Regions from separate parts of the Homo sapiens genome. Here region 2 is linked to region 1. The links come from fine-mapping of genetic effects on gene expression. A gene starts in region 1. The other region holds a variant in brackets. All regions are shown on one strand. Distances are from middle to middle.

What was found.
Region 2: its variant is fine-mapped to the expression of ZDHHC2 in pancreas (GTEx, PIP above 0.99). The same link has a PIP of 0.9 or more in unexposed skin.

What each region holds. Positions count from the first base shown.
Region 1 is chr8:17,150,073-17,162,009 of GRCh38, reverse strand. ZDHHC2 (zDHHC palmitoyltransferase 2) reads right to left here and starts at 5,528. Exons shown (of 13, transcript NM_016353.5): 1 at 5,157-5,528. The coding sequence starts at 5,286. It also overlaps the pseudogene RPL9P20. RefSeq lists a silencer at 4,710-6,069.
Region 2 is chr8:17,178,104-17,190,040 of GRCh38, reverse strand. ZDHHC2 (zDHHC palmitoyltransferase 2) reads right to left here. Exons shown (of 13, transcript NM_016353.5): 2 at 5,226-5,252; 3 at 3,616-3,710. Among named protein-coding and RNA genes, the nearest start is that of ZDHHC2, 28 kb to the right of the region's middle. The variant G/A (reference allele first, on the strand shown) is at 5,846.

The sequences.
Region 1 (11,937 bases):
TGATTTGAAGAAATGTTGAGTTTTTATTACCCTATTCACATAAATTCAAATCTTTAAAATATTCAACAATATCAAGAAAAGTCACAGAATATATTTTGAATCATATTGCCAACAACTAATAATTTCTTTTTTTTATTTTTTATTTTTTTGAGACAGGGTCTCGCTCTGTCACCCCAGGCTGAAGTGCAGTGGTGTGATCTCGGCTCACTGCAGCCTCTGCCTCCCCGGTTCAGGCAATTTCTTCTGCCTTAGCCTCCCGAGCAGCTGTGACTACAGGCACGCACCACCACACCTGGCTAATATTTGTATTTTTTGGTAGAGACAGGGTTCCACTATGTTGGCCAGGCTGGTCTCAAACTCCTGACCTCAAGTGATCCTCCCACCTTGGCCTCCCAAAGTGCTGGGATTACAAGGGTGAGCCACCGTGCTGGCCAATAAGTAATCATTTCTAAGGTGACGTAGGCGTTAAATGTTTTGCATACATCAGTTTTCTATGGATGTGCCTTACATTCCACTTAAAACTATTTTAATATTTAAAACAGTTGGCAAAACCAACTAATGGCAAAAACTGCAATTACTTTTGCATCAACTTAATAGAACATCTGTATTCCCAAGATCTACTGCCTGTTCTTTTTTTGTGAAAAATGCTTTATTGTCCTACACAGTTTTTAAAGTAATAGTTTAAGTATCAGGAATATCAAGATATTAATAATATAAAGCAACAGTTTAAAATCAATAACAAGAAAACATTTCTTCTTCTGTGTAGCTCAAATTCATTTCATGGTGGAAAACAACTGACAGCCCCAGCAGTCTCTATCCTTGAGCCTGCAGTGGCCTTCAATGAATGGTAGGTCATAACTTCACAGAATCCAAGTAGGAGGCTTTGTGTATTTTGTTCTTAGGGATGTTTGTTTTCTTGTTTGTTTAAAAGAATGAAAACATGGCAGCGTATCTCTCAAACTGATCCCTAAGTATTATAATCACTGTGGAATATAACAGGCTGCAATCACTGCTGAAGGATGTTTAGTAATAAAGACAGCAAAACTGCGAGTAAAACCTCAAGATTCTAGTGGTCTAGCTTCCCACATACTCCAAAGCTCAGCAAACTTTTGCCCAAGGGCCAAGATTGGCCAAATATTTTTGTTGAATAAAAGCCACGCCCATTTGTTAAAGTATCTTCTATGGCCGCTCTCTAAGATAGCAGAGTTGAGTGGTTGGAACAGAGATCACACGGCTTGCAAAGCCAAAAATATGTACTATATAGCCCCAAACTACAAAGCCCTTTAAATCTCTAAAATTGTGTAAAGACTGTTGGCTTATTTTCAGAGCTCTGTCAACTCTCTGTAAACGATAATAAAGTTAAAAAGAGTTGCTGCATAACTTCAATGGGCTAAGATATTTGGAGAGGGGTTTGCTGGGAAAAGGAGACATCTGGACATCTGCATTACAGCAGCTAAGGTCATAGCTGACACCTCCGCTAGGTAACTCGGAGGAAGGACATTGAACTTGTGGCAACTCTGGAATTTAGTTTAACTCTTTCGTTTAAAAATACAGAAGGGGTTAGCCTGGATGACCTTTAAGCTTTTGAAAATTCATGATCGTTTAAAATGACGTAACTAAAACCGTAAGCAAATTCAGAACTACATGACTGCGCAACATCATCATAAACGTCCCATAGCACCTGCCTAAGGAGCAGGAAAGTAATATATTTAAGAAAAATGGGAACTGAACTGGTTACACAAGTGTATGTGGAAGTTTCTTGTACTATTGAAACTTTTCAGTAAATCTGAAATAAAGAAAACGGTATGAAATAGTTAAAACAATTTAAATGTTAGCACTTAAAAGGGGAAACTTCAGTGAACCTTCTTCAACAAGCGAAGTTAACACAGCAGCAGCCATAAGGGATCTGTAAAACATAAACCACGTCGTGTGCTCGCTGAATGGAGCATGCCTGAGGCTGCAGACCTCCCTCATTCCCTCTCATAGTGCATCCTAAAGTTCCCCGTACAAATGTTACCTTTGAGTTTATCTTACTTGACGGAAACCAACCTAATATCTAAAGAGAGCAAAGAGAGTTAAAACACAAAAGAAGCCAGGAGTGGAGAGAGGGACAGGAGGGACAGGGGAGAGGGAAAAGGAGTGGTAAGAGAAGGAAAGGATGGAGGGGGAGGAATACAAATAGAAGAGCCTCGTTAATCAACAAACGAGATAAACGTGGTCCAAATGATTAGAAGTATAACTGTCTTTTGTGATCTTTTCTTTGGCAGAATAGGAAGCTGACTTAACCAAAAATACTTGACTCTCACACAATATATGTACATCCCATATATTTTACATATACACATATTCCAAAAAGAGAGGTTATTTTTATAAAATACAAACACTAAGCAAAAATTATGCTAACTGAAAAAGTGCCTAGAGAGCCACATACATCCACGTTGTTAAATATAGAAACTAACTGTAATGAGAATCATTATCTCCAGTTTCCAAGGATACCAGGATAAGCACTACTCCTAAATTGCAGTTCATTCAGCAAAGGGCACAGAATAATTTATATTCAGGGTCATCCCTAGCTGAGAGCAGATGTGGAAGGAGGACCAGGGTAAATCACCTTGTTTCTTCTATTCCATTTGCTACCTGATCCAGTTCCCAGCCCTCGACCCCCACACTCTGGTCCCAACCTTGGCCAATGTTTTATGGAAGAAATTTGGAAAATCTGCTTGTAAATGGCAACTTCCAAGAGAAAAAGAATCTTCAAAGGGCAGGGCAGTCTGAGATGTGATTAATACTGGGGGTAGGGTGGGGGCTGGTATTTCCATTTGCTTTGTCTGTGAAAAGGAAAGGAGTCTGGGAGTCTGGTTTTGTGTGTCAGTCACACTAGTCGCCATCTTTCCCAGTGCCTATAAGGAAATTTCAACTTCCCACTCGACCAAGGCTATGCAAAGCTTGCCACTCATAAACTGCCATGGTCTCTAGAATCAAATTCAGCTTCAACTTGTTCTTCCTTCTTAGACTCTAGAATCTAGATCTTTCATAACAATTACTTTTTGTTTCTACAGCAATAAAAATATAAAAGCTACTTTCTGAAAACCTAGGAGATAGTGCCTCTGAATCATTTATTTGTTTATTCAAGACCACTTACTGTTGTTTTCAATGTGGCAGGCATTGCGCCAGGCCAGGCAGACAGGCATTACGCCAGGCAGACAGGCATTGCGCCAGGCAGGCAGGGACAAGAAGTGATAGATAAGGTATCAATAACAGGCCACGCCACTTAGGCAGTTTAAAAAGAGGCATTCTTCCTCTTAGTCAAATCGTCACTTACTAAAATACTGATGCGGATTTTATGGATACTCTAGATTTGTCTTAAACTTACAGAAAGTACATATAAACATACGATTCAGATATAATACCAATTTTCCATTTAGTTCCTTCCCCATCACCTGTCTACCCAATACAATAATAAGATCTGCCATATAGCACCTCAGCTAGGAGCAGACATCCTTCTAACGGGCAGAAGAGCTCTCTCTGCCTTCAAATGCTTCCTCTTAATGGACAGGAGACACTGTACCAAGATAAGCGTCTTAGCTTAATGTGATAATACAGGAGAATAGGCTATTTTGATAATGAAGGCCTTCTAGGATGTCCCTTCTTTGCAGGTTATATTAATCGATACTGGTCACTGTTTTTAAGAGGACGAAGGAATGAAACACAACAAAGGTTCCCAACAGTTACGTAACATATACAGTCTATCTCAATAAGGCAAGCTATTTTAAGATTAACAGTTAATACAAAATTTACTACACGTCCTTTCCTATATATTTTAGATGACTTGACGACTGCATACCTAAATGCATCCTCATGATAATGCCTGTACAGCCTCATCTTTTCCCAACAACAGACTCAAGGTTTTTTTTTTGGACTATTAAGCTTGTTTCTAAATCCCTTCAAGTAATAACAGCAAATTTTAAAACTATATGAAATAAAAGTCTCGGTTCTCTTACAACTTACATCAGTGATTATTTTGATGTATTATTATGACACTTTCTCACAAGGCGCAACATTTTGAGGTAAGATGGCTTCAGACAAGATTTTATGTCTGAATCTTGAGGCTTTGAAAATGCTGAGCTTGTGAAGGCTCAATATAATAGGCCACTATTTCATCTTTTCCCTCGTCCCACCCAAAGCTAGCACTTGGTAGGGCAAAAACAGACACTTTGTTAGGTGGAGCACCAAACACAGAAAGCATTCACAAGTCACTGGCAGAAAGGTCATTTTCTGTTTTAACATCTTTTTCTGATAACCCAGATCAGTTTTCATAAAACCCCTGAAGGTAGAAACCAGCTTACATTAAGCGACATCATTGTACTCCCTACTTGTGCATAATAATCAACTTTTTAAAAAATTTTAATCTTCAGCATTAAAAGTATCCTACCCACCAATTCAGGAACCTCGAACTCGGACTGGAGCCACTTCGCTCTCTGGATGTAAAAACCTCAGACGATCACCTCTTTTTTTCTCTCCCTACTGTTCAAACACCTAAATTATGGTTTAGTGTGTTGCACATGTCCTCAAAAATACTTTCTAGTAGCTCACCTCCTCCACATCCTTTTAAACTAGAAAAGTGTCCAACTGGCAATCCTCAAATCATAAAGGCAGCAAAAACGCCCCTGAGCGCTGTCACAAATTTTTAACAAGTGCATTGACGCCAACCAGCAAGGGATCCAGCTCCGCCGCCAAGGCCAGCACCCCCGCGCGGGTCTGGCGCAGCTCGGGGCCGGGCCCAGCTCAGCCCTTCAGCCCCCGGCGCGCCTCGCCGGCCTCGGCCTCCCCTCTCCACAGCGGTCCCGGGGACCTTCCGCCCCTCTAGGGGGTGTGGCCGAGGCGGCGGCGGTGAGCGGAAGGCGGCGGGAGGCTCGGCGGCGAGTGCGGGGCGGAGGCGCCACCTTAACCCGAGAGTTGGGAGGGGAGGGCGAGGGGCGTGCGCGTGGAAGAAGCTGCCCCGAGGCTGCTTTTAGCGGCGGAGCCGGCGGGACGCGGCAGGTTGGCAGCGCCCGGGGCGCATCCGGGGGGCGAGAGCGGAGGAGCGGCTGAGCGTCCCGGGACAGTCGGGGTGGGCTGCGCTGCGCTGGGGGCGCCGCGGCGGGGGGCGCACTCACCTATGCACAGCTGGATGGCGTAGGCGTAGTAGGACCAGCCGAGCAGGAGGGTGATGAACACCACCGGGATCCAGTACAGCACCCGCCGGCACCGCCGCCTGGCGCTGCTGCCCGGGCCCGAGGGCGCCATCTTCCAGCCGCATCCACCTGCCCAGCTCCGCCGCCGCCCGCGGGCCTGGCTCCGGGGCGGGCTGGGCGGGCCCGGCACCCCTGGCTGGACGGGCTCCTGGGCGGCGGCGGGGTGCGCTGCGGCCACTGCCGCCGCCGTGGCGCTAACTCCCCATCCCGCAGCCCCGAGCCGGCGCGGCGGACTCCCGGCTCCTCAGCCCGGCGGAGGCGGAGGCGGCGGCTGCGAGCGGAGGCCGAGGAGGCGGAGGGGGGCGGTGAGGCGGCGGCGTCGGGAGGCTGCGCTCCGCCCCCGCCGTTCCCCGCCGCCCGGCCGCCTCCCCTGGCGTGGCAGGCTGCGCCCTCGGGCGGGCTCTGCGGGGATGCGGGGCCCTCGCTCGGGCCACCTCGCGGGCTCCCACCGTGGCCCCGCCGCCTCCGGCTCGGCCTCTGGATTCCGGGGAGGCGGGGGCTGCTGGGCGCAGGCCCCCGGGGCGGAGCGGGCGGTGGCGGCCCCTCCCTAGGCGCCCGGCACCCGGGGCAGTTAGGTCGCGAGCGCTTCCGCGCTTGGCGCAGGGCGGGGGTCGGAGGCGAGGCCGGCGGAGCAGCTGCTGCGCTCGGGACTCCGCGCCTGCCGCGACCCAGGCGCCCTGAGAAAGTCTGCAGCACCGAGGCCCGCGTCCCCGCAGCCCGCGTGGAACCCTCGCGCTTCAACTTGCGGGTCCCTGGGAGCCCGCGGGGGCCGCAAGGAGCCTCCCTTTACTACTCGGGCTTTCGGGGGAAGCAGAAATGCACAGCGAAGAGGGGGTGCCGAGCCGGCGTCTGGCATGGGAGGGGCTGTGGAGAGCGAGGAAGAAGCATTTTTGGCTGTGAATCCAGGCACCTCTGGAGTTAGAAACACAAGTTCTTTGCTCTGAGAATGTTGATGCTTTGGATAAATGATTGTGACAGGGGCCGTTCCCACTGTCCCCTCCCTCAAGTACGGTGGTTCCTTCCACCAACTATTTATTCTTTTCCTCAACCCGCTCCTCACTACGGTGTTTACTTTCGTGGTGGCAATTCCAAACTTAGCAGATAGCTGACTCCAAAGCGGTTCCCAAAAAACACCGTAAGGGAACCTAAAGGTAGTCAGCCCAAACCTCTGATTTTATGATTCACGAAATGGAAAATAAACAAATGCCTCCTTTGCTTTTCCTTCATCTGATTATGAACGCACCTGATCCACAGGGAAACATTTCAATCAATGAGTGTGTGTAAATTATGTGCATCACTACTATACATAATAGGCACAATTTTTCTTAACATTAGTGAATATGTGTATTTACACCACACAGCAACCACAGTGAATGAAATTACTTCTTATTCATGTGTAGAAGTAAAAAAAAAATACTGATTTACATGAATTCAGTCAAAGAAATTTAGCTCTGGTGTCTGCGATTATCTTTCTGTGACTGGATTACACAACAAGCTAATCTCTCCCGAAATAGCTACTATGTTACAGCCCCCCACCCCACATCTCTTTCCATTTCTCTTCAAAAATGCATAGAAAATGTCAGTCAAGTTTCTGTGGGACTTTAAATAATTGAAAAGAGAGACATATTATGTCCCAGTGAATCACTTGATTTTGCTGTAGCCTTTTATATTCTCTGTGGATATTCTGTATATTAATGTAAAAATAAAACTTCTCTGGATTCCTTAATGTTTTCCATGAATATTAATCCTGTGTTCCCCCCCAATCAGAAGAGAGTAAAAAACAGGAATTAAAACTTCCTCCTGGGACTGAAATACCCTCACAAAGAGAAGCAAATCAGTGACTGAAGGTCAATAGAGACCATCAAGGTATGAAAAGGAAGGAATCGGATTTTCCATACTGGAAACGGTGGAGAAAGTGCAAATAGTGCCTCTGTAGATCCTGGATGCGACGATGCCCTGTGCTCTTCCTCCTCTCACAGTCCTACAGGGTCTTGAAATCGGAAATGGAATAGCATTCTGCCCAGTTTTCACATCATCTACCCTTTTGGAAAAGTATGCAGGTGTCATATCTTTGAAGGAGCTACATTTTTATTACTCATCTAAGATGTTGTTTAATTGTTCCTATTTATAATAAATATTTGTGAAATATTTTCAACTTTTTTTTGTTATTGCCATTTTAAGGATACTACTATTACTGGGTTTTTCAAGTTCTCTTATCTTAAATACAGAAAAAGTCTGGATTAGGAAGAAGCATCTCCACAGCCACAAGATAACAGGATTGATCTCTGCGTAGTCTCTAATTAGGCATAAGCAGCACGCACAAATGTAAGCTCTTTGGTGAGTAGCCAATCTCTAGATACTAGTCTTTGATGAGAGTGGAAGGAGAGCTTTTATTTTGAGGTATAGAGAGCCTTTGATTTATTTTCTTTTTCTTTAGGACTACATAAACAGAAAAAATAATTTGAAGGTCATAGACAAGAAGAAACTTCACTAGAGACTTACTGTTTAGAAATACAGAAGATTCAACTCACGAATTTTAATTTAAATGTTCAATAAGCATAAGAAATTGTAGGTTTCATGTATAACTGTGATTAAACTGATATGACCACTTATGAAAAAGAAAGCCAGCCACAGCAAAGGAGGAAGAAGGCGACGCTAAGGAAGAGAAGAGACGAGCGGACAGCCAGGCAAGGAGGGGGGTGAGGGGAGTGACTGAGAACGGGAGAAAAGCCCCCTTGCTGGGTTCATCCAGTCCCTAATGACCATGACTCCATCCTCGCTAGGCCTCTGCCTGTATGCTCCTTGCACTCAGCGGTCTAGCAACATCATTCACCTCTCAAATTTTCACAACTCTTATTTTCAGTTCCTGCCCCATGAAGGAATCTCTCTTTTTTTGGGGGGGGGGGGCGGACAGAATTTCGCACTGTTGCCTGGGCTGGAGTGCAATGCCGCCATCTCGGCTCACTGCAACCTCCGCCTCCCGGGTTCAAGCGATTCTCCTGCCTCAGCTTCCCGAGTAGCTGGGATTACAGGTGCCCGCCACCGTGCCCGGCCAATTTTTTGTATTTGTAGTAGAGACAGGGTTTCAGTATGTTGGCCGAACTGGTCTCAAACTCCTGACCTGGTGATCCGCCCGCCTCGGTCTCCGGAAGTGTTGGAATTACAGGTGTGAGCCACCGTGCCCAGCCCAGGAACCTTAAACGTTCCTCCTCTCCCTCCAGCCCAGTCCCCCAAATTCTTGAGTTCCCAAACCTCAAGTCTGCCGTACTTTCATGATTAATACTGCTAATCTTCCTTCTGCCTGCAGATCCAGATTACCATTTTAACATAGTCCCTTGCATAGTATGAATCAAACATAGCATGCTAGCCAAACCCAGGAAGGCGTGGACGCACCTGCTGCTAGAGAACACAGATCCCCCTTAATGTTGCCTATGCCAACCTCATCTCAAGCTTTTCAGCCAAAACACCTACCAGAAACTATTAGGACACTTGCTTGATATTTACTCCTTCCTTTTGGAAGGGTTCTTAGAGGGCAACATTGCAACAAGATATGAGGTCAGTCGTATTAGTCTCATGTATATGAGACGTTGATTGTCTTGAGTTTGCTAAGAGGGTATGATACTTCACAAATACAAGGAGTTCTAAATCTTACAAGGATTGGAAGCAATGAAGCTGAGGTCTGGATCTATATCTTATTTACTAATGGCTCTCCCATCCTTACTAGAGTGGTCTGCATGAATACTGATAGATTCTCTTTCATTATTTTCTCAAACTTAATCTTATCACTCTTTTGGGGGAGAAGAGCTCTTTAGAAGGCAGCAGTCCATGACATCAGTGACTCCAGTGTCAATGTGCATGTTTATAATAGCGGTCAAAACATTCTCTGTGGGAGAAGAATAGCATGCCTAAACCACTTTTTGTTTCTGGAGATACATAAAATAAAAGAAAAGGAATCGCGCTTAGGGAATGTAGGAATGAAGTAATGCTTAGATATGTTTTGGCTGTCAGAGATTTATGTTTGCAATTCAGCTGTAATTATATTGAATAAAATGGGAGATAATTTCAAAAGCCTAAGGATGTCTCTGTATACAGTTGATTGGGTCGAAACACTGGGACAATGTAAAGTGGAGCAAACTGTCCCTGGCAAACCTGCCTTTCAGGCACACTAGGGCTTTCACGGTAGCATTAATGTGTCCTGCCACTAGATGGCAGGCACACACCAAGCAGTGCAGCAGTCTTCACCTTTTCTCCATAGATTTCAATAGTTATCAACTGTTAGCTTAAGCAAGGCAATTATAAATATGAATTATAACTTCATGAACAATTATATATCATTGTAACTAATTATAATTATGTTATAATTGGCCAGGCGCGGTGGCTTACGCCTGTAATCCCAGCACTTTGGGAGGCCAAGGCGGGCAGATCACCTGAGGTCAGGAGTTTGAGAGCTGCCTGGCCAACATGGCGAAACCCCATCTCTACTAAAAATACAAAAAATTAGCTGGGCGTGGTGGCGGGTGCCTGTAATCTCAGCTACTTGGAAGGCTGAGGCAGGAGAACTGCTTGAACCTGGGAGGTGGAGGCTGCAGTGAGCCAAGATCACGCCAATGCACTCCAGCCTGGGCAACAAGAGCAAAACTCCTTCTCAAAACAAAAAGTTATGTTATAATTATACAGTTTTTATATTATAATTTAATGGCTAACGATTAATAAAAACGACAACCCTATTCAAAAAATTTAAAAGACTTAAAGCATTTTTCTATATAGTAAATCGTTCTGATTCTGCGTGCACTTCTTTAGAATTCGCACTAAGGTCAATCTCTTTGGAAATAAAATAGGAAATTTTCATTGAAATAATATTTTTGCTTACACTGTTTCCCTTCTTTGCCCCTAAATGGGGAGGGGCACTGTCTATGAACCCAAAAGGTGAGCAGACATGTCCTTCCAGTGGACTGACACAGCTATACTATGGATCTCTAAGGGGTGATACAATGTCCGAAGTTCAACTGGAGATTATTAGAAGTGGCCGTTGTGGAGTTGAGAGCTGAACAGCCAGCAGAGAGTGACCAAGGGCAGCAGAATTCTGCAGTGTAGTGGCAAGTGTCCAGGGATATTAAGAGCAGCAATGGCATCCTAGGTTGACTGTTCTTGGTGGCAAGATCTTGGCCATGCACCAGCTTCCTTTGTTCCAGCTCAAGCTTGATTCTCCAGGCTTCCTTTTGATTTTGGAGGAGTGCCTATATAACTGCATAACATTTTTTATGTAAGTCAACTAGAGTTGACTTGTGTTTACAACCAAGAACTCTGAATGGCACGTAGTTTTAATTTCATTCTGCATCTCATTGCTTAAAGAGTTAGTTTCAGCTCATGGAGACCAAGGCACCTTGAGAAATAGGGATACAGGAATTTGGGGGTGAAGAAGCTTACTTGGTGCCATTCAAATCACACTCTCTTGACCTGCATTGTTCAATAAGTACCCACTAGTAACATTTGTTGCCACTATTCAAATTTGTTAAAATTAACATGAAATGAAATTGGAAATTCTTAGTTGCAATAGTCACATTTCAAATGCTCAATAGCCACATGTGGCTAGTGGCTACTGCATTGGATGCTGCAGATCTAGAACATTCCATCATTGAAGAAAGTTCTGTTGGACAGAACTGTTTAGACATTTTGTCTTGTCTGAATATTCAAAAGGCTTTATTCTTGTAAATGTAAGAAACAAAAAAGTCCCCTATGTAATAATCCCTTCACTGTTTTATAGAAACAAAAATTAGAGGTAACAGGAAGTTGAAAACAATTTTACGTTTTGGTACTAGGAAATTTCTTCCTTTGAAGAGGAATCCAAAGAGTAAAGAACCACCTTTTCGCTGTGTCTACTGTGAGAATGAAAACCATTCTCTGCAACCAGACTGTCCATATTCCAGAAAATGTAGATATCACTTTGAAGGGATACCCAGTAATTGCGAAAGGCCCTAGAGGAACCCTGTGGATGGACTTCAATCACATCAATGTAGACCTCAGTCTCCTTGGAAAGAAAAAAAATGAGGCTCCGGCACTGACAAAAAATGGTGGGGAAACAGAAAGGAACTGGCTGCCGTTTGCACTATTTGTAGTCATGCACAGGACATGGTCAAGGATGTTGTGCTGGGCTTCCGCTGCAAGATGAGCTCTGTGTGTACTCACTTCTCCATCAATGTCGTTATCCGGAAGAATAGGTCTCTGGTTGAGTTCTGAAATTTCCTCGGTGAAAAATAAATCCACAGGGTTTGGCAGTGGCCAGGTGTTGCTTGTTCAGTATCTCAAGCCCAGAAAGATGAATTAACCCTTGTAGGAAATGACATTGATCTTGTTGCAAATTCAGCTGCTTTGATTCAGCCAGCCACGACAATTAAATAAAAACAAGGATATCAGAAAATGTGTGGATGGTATTTACGTCTCTGAAAAAGGAACAGTTAAGCAGGCTGCTGAATAAGACCTAAGAGTAGTCCAGGTACAGAAACAAGATGCCGGATGATTCCTAAGACCTATTTGTGATATTTAAATGATGCAATAAAAGACCTATTGATTTGGGGGAGAAAAGAAGAGTAAGGTGCCAGTTGGATCATAGAACAGTATACATCGATTTCTTCAACCTAAGGCTTACATGTGTAAATGTAAAAAACAAAAAAGTCCCCTATGTAATAATCCCTTCACTGTTTTA
Region 2 (11,937 bases), 28 kb before region 1:
TGGGCACTCCCACCCATTGTGCTTGCTCTCCATACTAGAGCATGGTGTAGTGAAAAGAAAGTGTCCTTAAGGGTTGAAAGGACTTTTGGTTGAACCTTAGCTCTCCCACACAGTAGCACTAGATACCTTAATTGTTTCATGTTCAAAGCCAGTGGCTCCATCTGTAAAATAGTAAAAAATAGTATCTATCTCAAACAGTTGTATGACTAAGGTACGTCTTTTGTAGAAAAATCACACAATGAAGCCTGATACCGTTATAATGTCACTGTCATCGATTTGACTGCTCCTTCAATGCTGTGTTCTTTCTTCCGTGTGTTTCATATCCTTTTGCCACTCTGTCCAATCCACTATTTCAAACCTTCTCTACTCTCCCAACCCTTAATTAACCCACTTAGGTCTTCACTGTTAGCCAATGATGTCATATATAATTTTAGAGAGAAGTTAGAAGTCACTTCAACTTCCTGCCAAGGCCATAAAAATAAACCTGCATGTGTATGAATAACTTCTTCCCTACTTTTAGTCACTTAAAAAGTATCTCTTGAGTACCTTCTATAGGTCAGACACTGCTTTAGGCACTGGTGATGAAGCAGTGAACAAAGATACATTTCACGCCCTTATGGAACCTACATTCTAACGATGGTGTATTTTCAAAAGTATTCAACAAATAAATATGCAGTGTGTTGCCATGATGGTAAATGTTATGGAGAAAAATCCAGGAAGGTAAGGTGCAGGGAAAGCCGAGGGTAGTGGGGTTGCTATTCTATGTTGAGTCATCACAGACAGCCTCAATGATAAGGTACCATTTGTATAAAGACATCAAAAAGGTGAGAGATTTGCCTTGTCTTTTGAAAGGATCACTTTGGCTACTGTGTTGAAAATACACAAGAGGAGGCCAAAAAAAAAAAAAAAAAAACATAACAAAACACCAAAAAAAAAAACCCAACAAAAAGAAACCTGTTAAGAGGCTACTGCAAATCTATAAATGAGAGAGGATGGTGGCTTGGACCGGGGTGGGAGCAGGGAGCAGTGCGGCACATGAGTTCACATTGTGGCCATACTCTGAGGGTGAGGGTATAGAATTTTCTGATTGACTAGATGTGGCGTCCGAGAGAAAAAGAGTAGCCAAGGATGACACCAATGTTTCTGGCCTGAACAGAAGAGTGAAACTGTCATTACTGACATAAGAAAACTTTAGGACTAGAAGAACTGGGGAATTAAATGAGAAATCAGAAGTTTGTTTTCAGTTGTGTTGAACCTGAAATTTCTATTAGATGTCAAATAGGGAGCTGGAAATGTGTCAGGCGTTTATTAGCAAGCACCAGGCTAATATATTAATCTGAGAGCTGCGGCACTGGGGTGACACATAAAGTCACAGAACTCAATGAAATCCACGAGGGAATAAATGCAGGTATATAAGAAGAGAAGTCCAGGGATTAAGCTCTGGAACATTCCAATGCTTTGGCAGTCTAGGAGCTGAAGAGGAACCAGCAAAGGAGGCCAAGAAGGAGCTGCCAGTATGAATGGAAAATAAATATATTATTTCCATGAGAAAGGGGTAAGAATATTTTGGAAAGGAAATAATGCCATGTTGTATACAGGAAACTATGTGTAGTTAAGAACTACTAGAGTATAAAGTATAAAGTCAGAAATTGAGACAAGAGCTGCTATTGCTAGGCAGAAGAGACTGAGCTTTCCCCTGTGGGATATATGGAATCACAATAGATACAAGCAGTAGAGGGAAGGCGTTACATTGGTTTTTAGGAGGACCACTCCAGCTTCAGGGTATTGGATGAAGTTTTGTGGGGTTCTGGGAAGGAAAGGTAGGCCAGGCTGTAAACAGAAAACCTTAAGATGGTTTTCCAGTATGACCAGACAAACATTGCAAAAAGTAGATGATAGGCCATTAGGCACACAACTAAAATGAGAGAAACATAATTATCATTATAATATGCAAGTACAGACTAAAATTATGGTATTCACAAATGATCTGCTTGTTTTAAAATAACCAAATTACCAGGAGAAGAATACAATATCTCAGACAAGGGAGATGATGAAGACCCAGAATTAGAGCAGTGATAAACTGCCCATTAACTGACATAAGAAACAGATGACTCACAGTCTGGGGAAGGAGAAGGTGATGACGTCTGTTTTTGATGTTTTGTATTTGAGATGTTGGTGGAATTATCAAGAAGCTATGCTTGGCAGGGGGATACATAAGTTTGAAATTTAAGGGGGAGTTTAGAACTCAAAACAGATTTGGGAGTTATCAAAACAGAGGTTGTATGTAAACTACCAGAGTGGATGAGACTACCTATGATAGAAGTCAGTATTTTTCTTCAAACCTACTACTAGGGACAGGATGAGGGTAAGAGAGATGATGGAAAAGAAGCAAATATGGTAGGAGGAAGGAAAAAAAAAGACTGGGATAGAAAAAGAAGTGGAGAATAGAAGAAAAACAGGCAATAGATAGGCATTCTAAGCCAGGCATACCATTAATTCTGCGCAAACATCTGTGGTTTTTACCATCCTCTCCCAAGCCAAATAGCATATTTATTGGCTTTTTTGACCAAAGTTGCATTTCAAACTGATTACTTCAGTAAACAGTCTACAGTGATGCTTTTTTTTTTTAAACTTGGCTTACTAAAACTACACTGTTATTAGAGTTAGCAAAGTATATTTTTATTCAACAATGTACTGGGCTATACGCCAAGGATACAAAAATGAGTGAGACACAATTCTTTGCTCCAAGAACGTTTAACCAGGATGCATGATCCAGAAACAAACAGAATGATCTTTTCAACATGCAAATTTGATCCATCACTCTACTTAAAGCCCTCTGAAGCAGAGATTGCTAGTTGTCTCTCAGTAACCATATTTCTCTTCTTCTCTCATGTTTAACATGGTCATCGAGAAGAAAGGCTACACTCCCCCCTTCCTTGTGGGTAGATGTGGCCATATAACCAACTTCTAAATGTAAGTGGAAATGACGTCAGCAATGTCTAGAAAGTGTTCTTGAAGAGGAGGACATTTACTTCTCTTTCCTACTTTCTTTGGTCTGCTGGCTACAATGTAGATGTGATGGTTGGAACCGCAGAGTCCCCCTTAGACCAAGAGGGGACCTTGGAAATGGAGGCTACACGTGGCAGAGAAACAAGATAGAAGGAGTGTGGGCACCTGGAAGCTGTGGACTAGCTACAGACTTTTTGAATGCAGAGAAGATTAGCTAAGCCATTATTTTGTTGTTGTTGTTTCTGGTGGCTGATAACCAACTAATACACCTTTAATGTGATAATTATCATAGAATTATGTCTACCTTCTAGCTCTATTTTATTATCTATCTTTGTCTACCTATCCATCCATCCTGATGTCTGACTCTAAAGTGGAAATGGAATTCATAACAGATTCAATACAGAAAATGCAGTGCTTATCTGGTGAAAACACTAATATTTCCAGGTGAAAATTCAAGTATTTATTAACAGAAATACTAATTTTTTTAATCTAAAAAGTCACTAAACTCAATAAGTTTGCAACATTAAAATAAAATTCGTTCTTCAATAATACATCAGTATTATTGATTTCTATTATTAGAATAATTTCGTTAATATTTTAACTTACTTCTTTTGAAGGATTCATTGGTAATGTAAAGATAGTTTTCCAGTATGACCAGACAAACATTGCAAAAAGTAGATGATAGGCCATCAGGCACACAACTAAAATGAGAAAAACATAATTATCATTATAATATGCAAATACATACTAAAATTATGACAGTCACAACCGATCTGCTTGTTTTAAAATAACCAAATTACCAATTATAATACATTATGAAAGTTCCTTTACTTTATACTAGAATAAACACAACTCAACGAATTTATTTCCAAAGCCAAGAGTTTTTTACAAAAATTCCTAAATGCATAATGAGATCTATGCCCATGAATAAAAGCCTCCCATCTGTAGACAGACCATCTATTGGCAAAATCACTAACAAGGACCTTTTCTAAATTGTAAAAATGAGGCAGTTACGCCTCCAAATTTAAACAGCAAACACAGCATTAAAAACAAGTGTTAAAACACTCAGGCTTTAAGAACTTTGCTTTACTGACACAGATAACAAAGGCAGTTCCTATTTGAGAAGCTGTTTGCTTATTTGCTTGGCTCTAGTCAAAGCTGGTGTAATGATAACACATTTAAATGGAGAACATCTGGACAAAGAGATTTCCTTCAGTGGGAGTTCAAGTGTCTTATTTATTACATGGGACAATTGTTTTAAAAAAGTGTTCTGAATACTTTTTTCAGTAATGCATATAAACACACTCTGGGTGGTGTTATAAAGTCTTGAAATACTATCCAAAATTTTCTTTTCTTTTCTTTCCTTTTTTTTGAGACAGGGTCTCACTCTGTCGCCCAGGCTGGAGTGCAGTGGCTCACTGCCACCTCCGCCCCCTGGGGCTCAAGCAATCCTCCTACCTCAGCCTCCTGAGTGGCTGGGATTACAGGCATGCCCCACCTCACCTGGCTAATGTTAGTATTTTTCTTTTTTTTTTTAAGTAGAGACAGGGTTTCACCATGCTGGCCAGGCTGGTCTTGAACTTCTGACCTCAAATGATCTGCCCGCTTTGGCCTCCCAAGGTGCTGAGATTACAGGCATGAGCCACTGTGCCCGGCCCAAATTTTAAATATTAATTTTCTATATGGTGATAATGCTTCCTTCTGGGTAATACATTAATACACAATTTAATTCTGTAAGATATCATTGAATAAAATATGCTAATTTAAATATAGCATATTTGGCATTTTAAAACTTTAATAGCAATTTTAAATTTTTCTAAAGAATGAGGATACTCATAGAATCATTAAAAATTTGAATTATTCAATAAGGCACTTAAATCGGTGTGAGATGACTAAAGCCAACAATATTTTTCATAAATTATGTAGGTGACTCAGTTATAAGTTCATAATCTGAATTAGGAAAGGAAATTGTTGATATCCCTATACCTCAAAGCCTTAAGAATCTCTGGCACAATGACAGCCATTTCAGGATAGAATTCTTTGCCAAGGGTCTGACAGAATTCAATCTGCAAACTTAAGAGAAATGAGACATCTTTAACCCTAGCTTGTCTCCACATTCTCAAACAACAATTTATTAATCCCAACCAAATCTAAGTGAATACAATTTTTTTTCAAACTATTTAAAAAATCTATAACATTAATATAATCTAGCTTACCTTGTTCGCCAGTGTTTTCCATGGACACTGTAAAGAGAAAAAAAGGTAATAGGTTACATGAAGCTTATGGCAAACGGGGCTTGACACAGACATAAGGCATTTAAGTAGCTTAATAATGTGGCTTCCCTTCAAACCAACATTCTCTAAATATTTATTCAACTTTATTTGGAGGAGAGGTGAGCACAGTGTGGAGAGGGTGCAGGAAACGGCTGGAGGCTGCAGTCAGCCATGCCTCCATTGCGCACTTCAGCCCTGGCTCCTGTCCTGCGGAACAAAACTTGTCAAGTGTGCCCCTTGCGGGTCTTATTTCTGTATCATTTGGTTGACTGGTTTTCCTTCCAACTATAGAGTTCAGATAAAAGCAATGCTCTCCAGGTCATTACATTTCCGCAGGCATTTATTGCTCTTGATAAACTGGCAACCACCTGGTGAGCTTTCCACAAAGAATAAAATGTGTCCACAGCACACACTTTTTTTCCCCCTAATTTCTAAAAGTACAAATGCTTATGCACAGTGACTTTACTTGCTCCCTGTTGCACAACGAAAGGCCAGGCAGTGCTGGGAAACTGCCACTCCTCAGCGGCTGTTGTAAATATTCCAAGCTAGCAGGTATTATAGAT[G/A]AGGACAGGGGCCACAAGCACTAAAGCAAGCTGCGGCAAGAAGTTGTATTTAGTAATCAAGACATATGTACGCCTTTTGTATTGTCTATTTGTTTTCCCATTTGGTCTCTCTCTTTGTACTAGAGTCTTTGGAAGTTTTGCCCTATCTCAGCTGTAGCAAGTCTGACTTTGTATATTTTTGTCCTTATTCAGCTTTTCAAAAGGGCACGGGACCTCAGGCCTTGGTGCTGGAATGAAATGCGCTGCCTTCTGAAGCCTGGAACCAGAGGGTAGTGTGAGAAATTTTTAAGATTGCTCAGTCCAACCAATCTCCTGCCCAAGAGAGCTACCAAATATAAGTTCAGGCATTTCTAGAGCTAGCAGAAGCCCGTAGTTTCTTGGAGGGCAGCCCGTTCCACTGTTGGATTGCCCTAAGAATAAGAAAATTCATCCTTCCAGGGTGTTGAAATTGGCTGCTTTGTGACTTTTACCTGTGATACTGAGGCTTCCAAACCATAGCAACAAACAGAAGATCTAAATGACAGATCTTCACATATTTGATGTTATAGTGTCCCCCTTAAATGTTCTAGTTTACACCAACTAATATATGGTTTCCAGATCTCTTACTAACGTAGATGTGGCATCTGTAAATGCTTCCTAGGTTCTCCACTCCTTTTAACATTTCTGATCTCCAGAATGAGACAGGCAGGCCTGGATGACCTTCGATTTACAAATGGCCTGTTCTCCAAGTCCGCTTGTAAGTCAGAGGCTAGTCAGAGTTTGCTTTCTCATAGAATCCCTGAAGCAGCTCATCTGAGGGCACAGGAGAGGCTTGAGGCAAGCCTGTTTTTTAATATCTGAACCTACCGCCACAGGTATGCATTTCTTTCTAGACACTGACTACACCCTGTCTTCAAAAGTGCTCCAAAATTGACAACTCTTTTCTGGATCAAAATTTCCAATCCTTCAGTGGAGCCAATCTAAGGAAAGGAAAAGCAATTTGACTCCATTTGTGCATTTATATATGAATGACCCTTACTGACCATTCCAGAGGTGCTGGTGCTTGCATACAAATGTGTTTGCTACTCCACTGACTCGAGTGGAGAGAACTGAAAACTAAGACAAAGTGACATTTTTGAAAAAGGTATAGTTAGGGGCTGGGCACGGTGGCTCACACCTGTAATCCCAACATTTTGGGAGGCCAAGGTGGGTGGATCACCTGAGGTCAAGAGTTCAAGACCAGCCTGGCCAACATGGCAAAACCCCGTCTCTACTAAAAATACAGAAAATTAATCAGGTGTGGTGACACGCGCCTGTAATCCCAGCTACTTGGAGGCTGAGGCAGGAGAATCGCTTGAACCCGGGAGGCAGAGGTTGCAGTGAGCCAACATCACGCCACTGCGCTCCAGCCTGGGCAACAGAGTGAGACTCTGTCTCAAAAACAACAACAAAAAAAAAGGTGTAGTTGGTACGAGTTGCTAATCTTTTTGACCTGGACCACTACTCTATAAGCCTGATATGCATTCAAAGACTTTGTTTTTAAAGCTATTATTATTATTATTATTATTGCCATTCACAGTTTGCTTTTCCCTAAATGTAATTCAAAATCCACAGATGTTCTATTTTTTTAAAAGTACACAACTTACACATAAATTCATCTTTATAGTAAATAATTGTGTAACATTTGTAGAATGAAAGGGATCAGTTCAAAAGGCTGTATCCAATTACACTTTCGCCAAGATTATGAGCCGGTTCAATTTCCTGTAAACGTAACTCTGTTTAATTTTTGTCGACATCATAGGCCTAAATAAAAATCATTATTTTAGCATTCATTTCCCTTATTATTAGTGCAGTTTGGCATTATTTTTAAAACACTATGATTGGGATTTCCTTTCTCTTCTATGTGAATGATTATTTTCCTATTGGCCTACTTAGTTACTGAGAGCCTTTTATATATTCTGGACAGAAATCTCATATCTGTTATATATATATTGCAAATAAAACTGCATATAGCTATTTTAAATGATTTAATAAGTACTAGCAACATTTTTATCACTTGCCACTGATTAAGTAACATTATCAAAGTTTGCAAATTAACTTATTTCATTAACAGATATATGGACTATGCAAGGTTTTGCTTTGTGATACTCAGGAAATGAATGTTCTTTCAACCATGGTTACTTAATTAGTAAATCAGTGATTTACCTTGTAATTTTCAGTTTAATGGCAGAGTTGTCAAGTTCAAAGTTTCCTTTCTCACAGAGTAAAAACACATAAAATACAAAGTTATTGTCAAATGCAAATATTTTTGTTCAAAAGTAACTGTTCAAGAAAAGATTGCTCAAATTTAGCCTCAAACACTTTTCTAATATTTATGTATATAAAGATAACATATGAAAAATAGAGACTCATTTTTGAAACAATATAGATGGTAATCAAATATAATTTGATTATTTATAACAATACAAAAACTAAATAGCAATACTGAACATAATTGGGACAGGTCTTCTAAAAATAACTATTGGTTTTAATGTGGATTTTGAGTTTTAATCCAGGATTATTTAATTTTCTTACTTCACAGACAGAATTTCAATTTGTTTGATTTAACAATGATGCTGATACCTATTCTTCAATTTTTACCATAGAGAAATTTCAAGTGTTGTATAGCCTTCTTTATCTCATTTCCTTTAAACCAGTTATTGAGATAAATTAATAGTTATTTCAATTTTTGTCAACAGAAAACTGAGGTTTACTCAGTTTTTACTAAAGCAAATGAGCTTTATTCTCAAAGTCACGACGAATAGCACATTAATTCTACCTTAGAAATTCTTTTATTTTCAATTTAAACATTTCCTGCCTGTAACAAAAACGTTACAACTTCCAGCTCTGCTGGATCATATTAAAATTAATTCCTCATTAAAGCACAAGAACTGGCATAGAGCATCTGCCCCATTAATGTTTACTGAGTAAGAGACTGACTTAGACAAACAGACCATGACAACTAATTTGAATCACATAAAACTGGTATATCAAAGCGGACATATGAGAAGTATTCATTTTTCTTTTGTGGGCATGAAAAACTCAAGAGAAAAGTTATTTCTATTACCATGTTAGCTTAGCACACCATAGCACTCAACTGATAGTTGAAAAAAGCGAAAGTAATCTCTTCTGTGAGGTGAAGAAAACACTTCTCTAAAGAGAGGAGAGAGGGAGAAGACAAAATGGTTCCTGTTCCTTTAAAAAGGAAAAAGCTGAGGGAGATACTGGCTTCAACTGGGCTTCAAGCAACTTTGAAGACAGACAGGGTCTATAAGTTCACAGGGTTCCCTCCACCCCCAGCTTGGTTTTGGTTCTTCCTTAGTATTGTACTTTTTTATAGTTGAATTTGTCAAAATGGAAAAGAGATTATTACTAAGCATAATAGCACCAAAGAGCAATGGCTGGGGATAAAGAAGGCAAGGTCCAATCCTGCCTCTGCCACTTGCTGGCTTACATAAGCTATCCCACTTATTCCACTACAAAATGAGGGTGATTGCTGCAGCAGTAGCATTAGGGCTGTAGCGAGAATTCAAAGGGACAATAAAACAATGTACTTAACACAGTGCCTTGTGTAGAGTAAGCCCCATGAATGTACAATTATAATATATCATCTTTCATCTTGATAATATTAACTGTAATGTATAACGTATAGGAAAGGGGGCTAAACAAGGAAGACAAATTACAAAGAGAAAAGTAATATTTGTACAGGCTCCTGAAAGAAATAAATGCAAAATGTTGAACAAAAATAGACTTGGCGAGTGAAAATAAAAGGTGAAAAATAATGTAAATCTGAATTATCTTATAAGTCAATTGCCTTTTTAAACGGATGTGTCATTTCAGAAACTTGTTTAAACCAAAAAAGTGGTCTTCATTCTTAACACAGAGTAATGATGAGATGTTAAAACTTCGATCTTGATGTGCCAGTTAGTCCTTTTGAGAACTTAAATGTGAAAGAATCTATTTTGGATAGGCACTGTTTAACTTAATGAATAAAAACAATTACTTTAAAAAAAAATAAAGACCTAAATCTTATAATCACCCCAAAGAAGTTAGGTGCAGTTTATTCCTGGGAATTAAAAGCATTGCTATTATTACACTAAAATATTTACCAATCCTACATCTGGTGGATGGCACCATTCATACCATCTAAATACACACAATAGGAACACTGTGAATCACAATTTTAATTTTAATTTCAAACACTTATTTGCCTCATTTTATCTTGGATTAGCCTAATTTCTTTTTGGTCCATGCCCTACAATGATAATATTTTGCTTTAGCAATTTCTAATCTTCCAATATACCTCCAGAACTTCAAGTTCCTCTGTGATTAATTGTGGGAACTGCAGCACTTTCTTGGCCCTGACGGTATATAGGAAGAGAGAAAGTGAAAAAGGTAAATTACTACTATAGTTACCAAGAATGTTCCTGTTTGCCAAAAGTAAAATTATGGCCTTCAGGAATCACATTTTGGGCTGGGCGGCCCACGCATGAAATGCCAGCACTTCGGGAGGCCAAAGTGGGAGGATCACTTAAGGCCAAGAGTTGGAGATCAGCCTGGACAACACATTGAGACTGTGTCTCTACAAATAAACTTTTTTTTTTAGCTGGGTGTGGTGGCACTGCCTGTGGTCCCAGCTACTTGGGAGACTGGGGGCAGGAGAACTGATTGAGCCCAGTAGTTCAAGGCTGCACTAAGCTATGATCACATCACTGTACTCCAGCCTGTGCGATAGAGTGAGACCCTGTTTCTTAAAACAAAAAGAAGAAGAAATAAAGAAAACAAAAAAAGAACTTCATCTTAAAATCTAGAACCATCATCGATGCTACAAAGCTTGTAGATTGGGTCACCAGTTGTATTATCTGGCTGCGCTTTACGCTCACCCCCTCCACCGCCACTGATCATTCCCGTAAGAAAGACAGGACAACCAGGCACAGTGGCTCAAACCTCTAATCCCAGCACTTTGGGAGGCCAAGGTGAGAGCATAGTTTTGAGGCCAGGAGTTTGAGATTGGCCCGGGCAACACAGTGAAACATCATCTCTACAAAAAAATTTAAAAATTAGCCAGGCATAGTGGTGCCCACCCATGGTTCCAGCTACTCGGGAGGCTGAGGTGGGAAGATCACTTGAGCACAGGAGGTCGAGGCTGCAGTGAGCTGTGATCCTGCTACTGCATTCAAGCCTGGGCAACAGAGCGTGACCCTGTCTCAAAAAAAAGAGAGAAAGAAACAGAGTAGGACAACATATAAAAAGGCTGAACTAATCAGTCCTCAGTTTAGAATTGGTAAGACTGATAAGAGTGACAGTTTTTTGTTATAACATTAATTGTTTTTTAAGAAATCCTTGTGTAAAAATAAAACAGGTAAAATTGAAGTTAAAGAGTGAGACTGTCAAAGTAATAACCCATAATATAGAAAAGGATGACAAACTGCTCCTTAATCCAACCTGGCTTGAATGAAACATCCTTTCAAATGTATACCTCCCTTATCTCTTTTGACTGAACTACCAAGCAATCATTTAATCCTAGAACCCTTGGTCCAAACACAGCTAGATGCCTGTTTCTATAAATAAAGTTTTATTGAAACATGTATGCATCCATTCACTTACATGGCTACTTATGTGCTACAATGACAGAGTTAGGTAGCTGAGACAGGGAAAGTATGGACTGCAAAGCCTAAAATATTTACTGTTTAGCCTTTTATGAAGAAAGTATTCCAGCCCTATGTATTAGTCAGGGTTCTCCACAGAAAAAGATTTAATAGGATGTGTGTGTATGTGTATATATAGATACTATATATTAATATAGTCTAGAATGATTTATATATATTAATTTAGTCTAGAATGATTTAAATTCAACCTTGATTAAAAGCAGGAGATCATCTCAACGGTTATTCCACTCGTACATTTTTTACCAATTGATTATTTAAAAATTGGCTTTGGTGATTATTATTAAAGTGTTACTGTCCTAAATGGTATCTAATGAGATACAGCAGCCTAGTAAACTGATGGTAACTTAAATCTAGTTGAACTTTTAGTCATAAATATATCCAAAATTCAAGCTTTCAGATACTTAC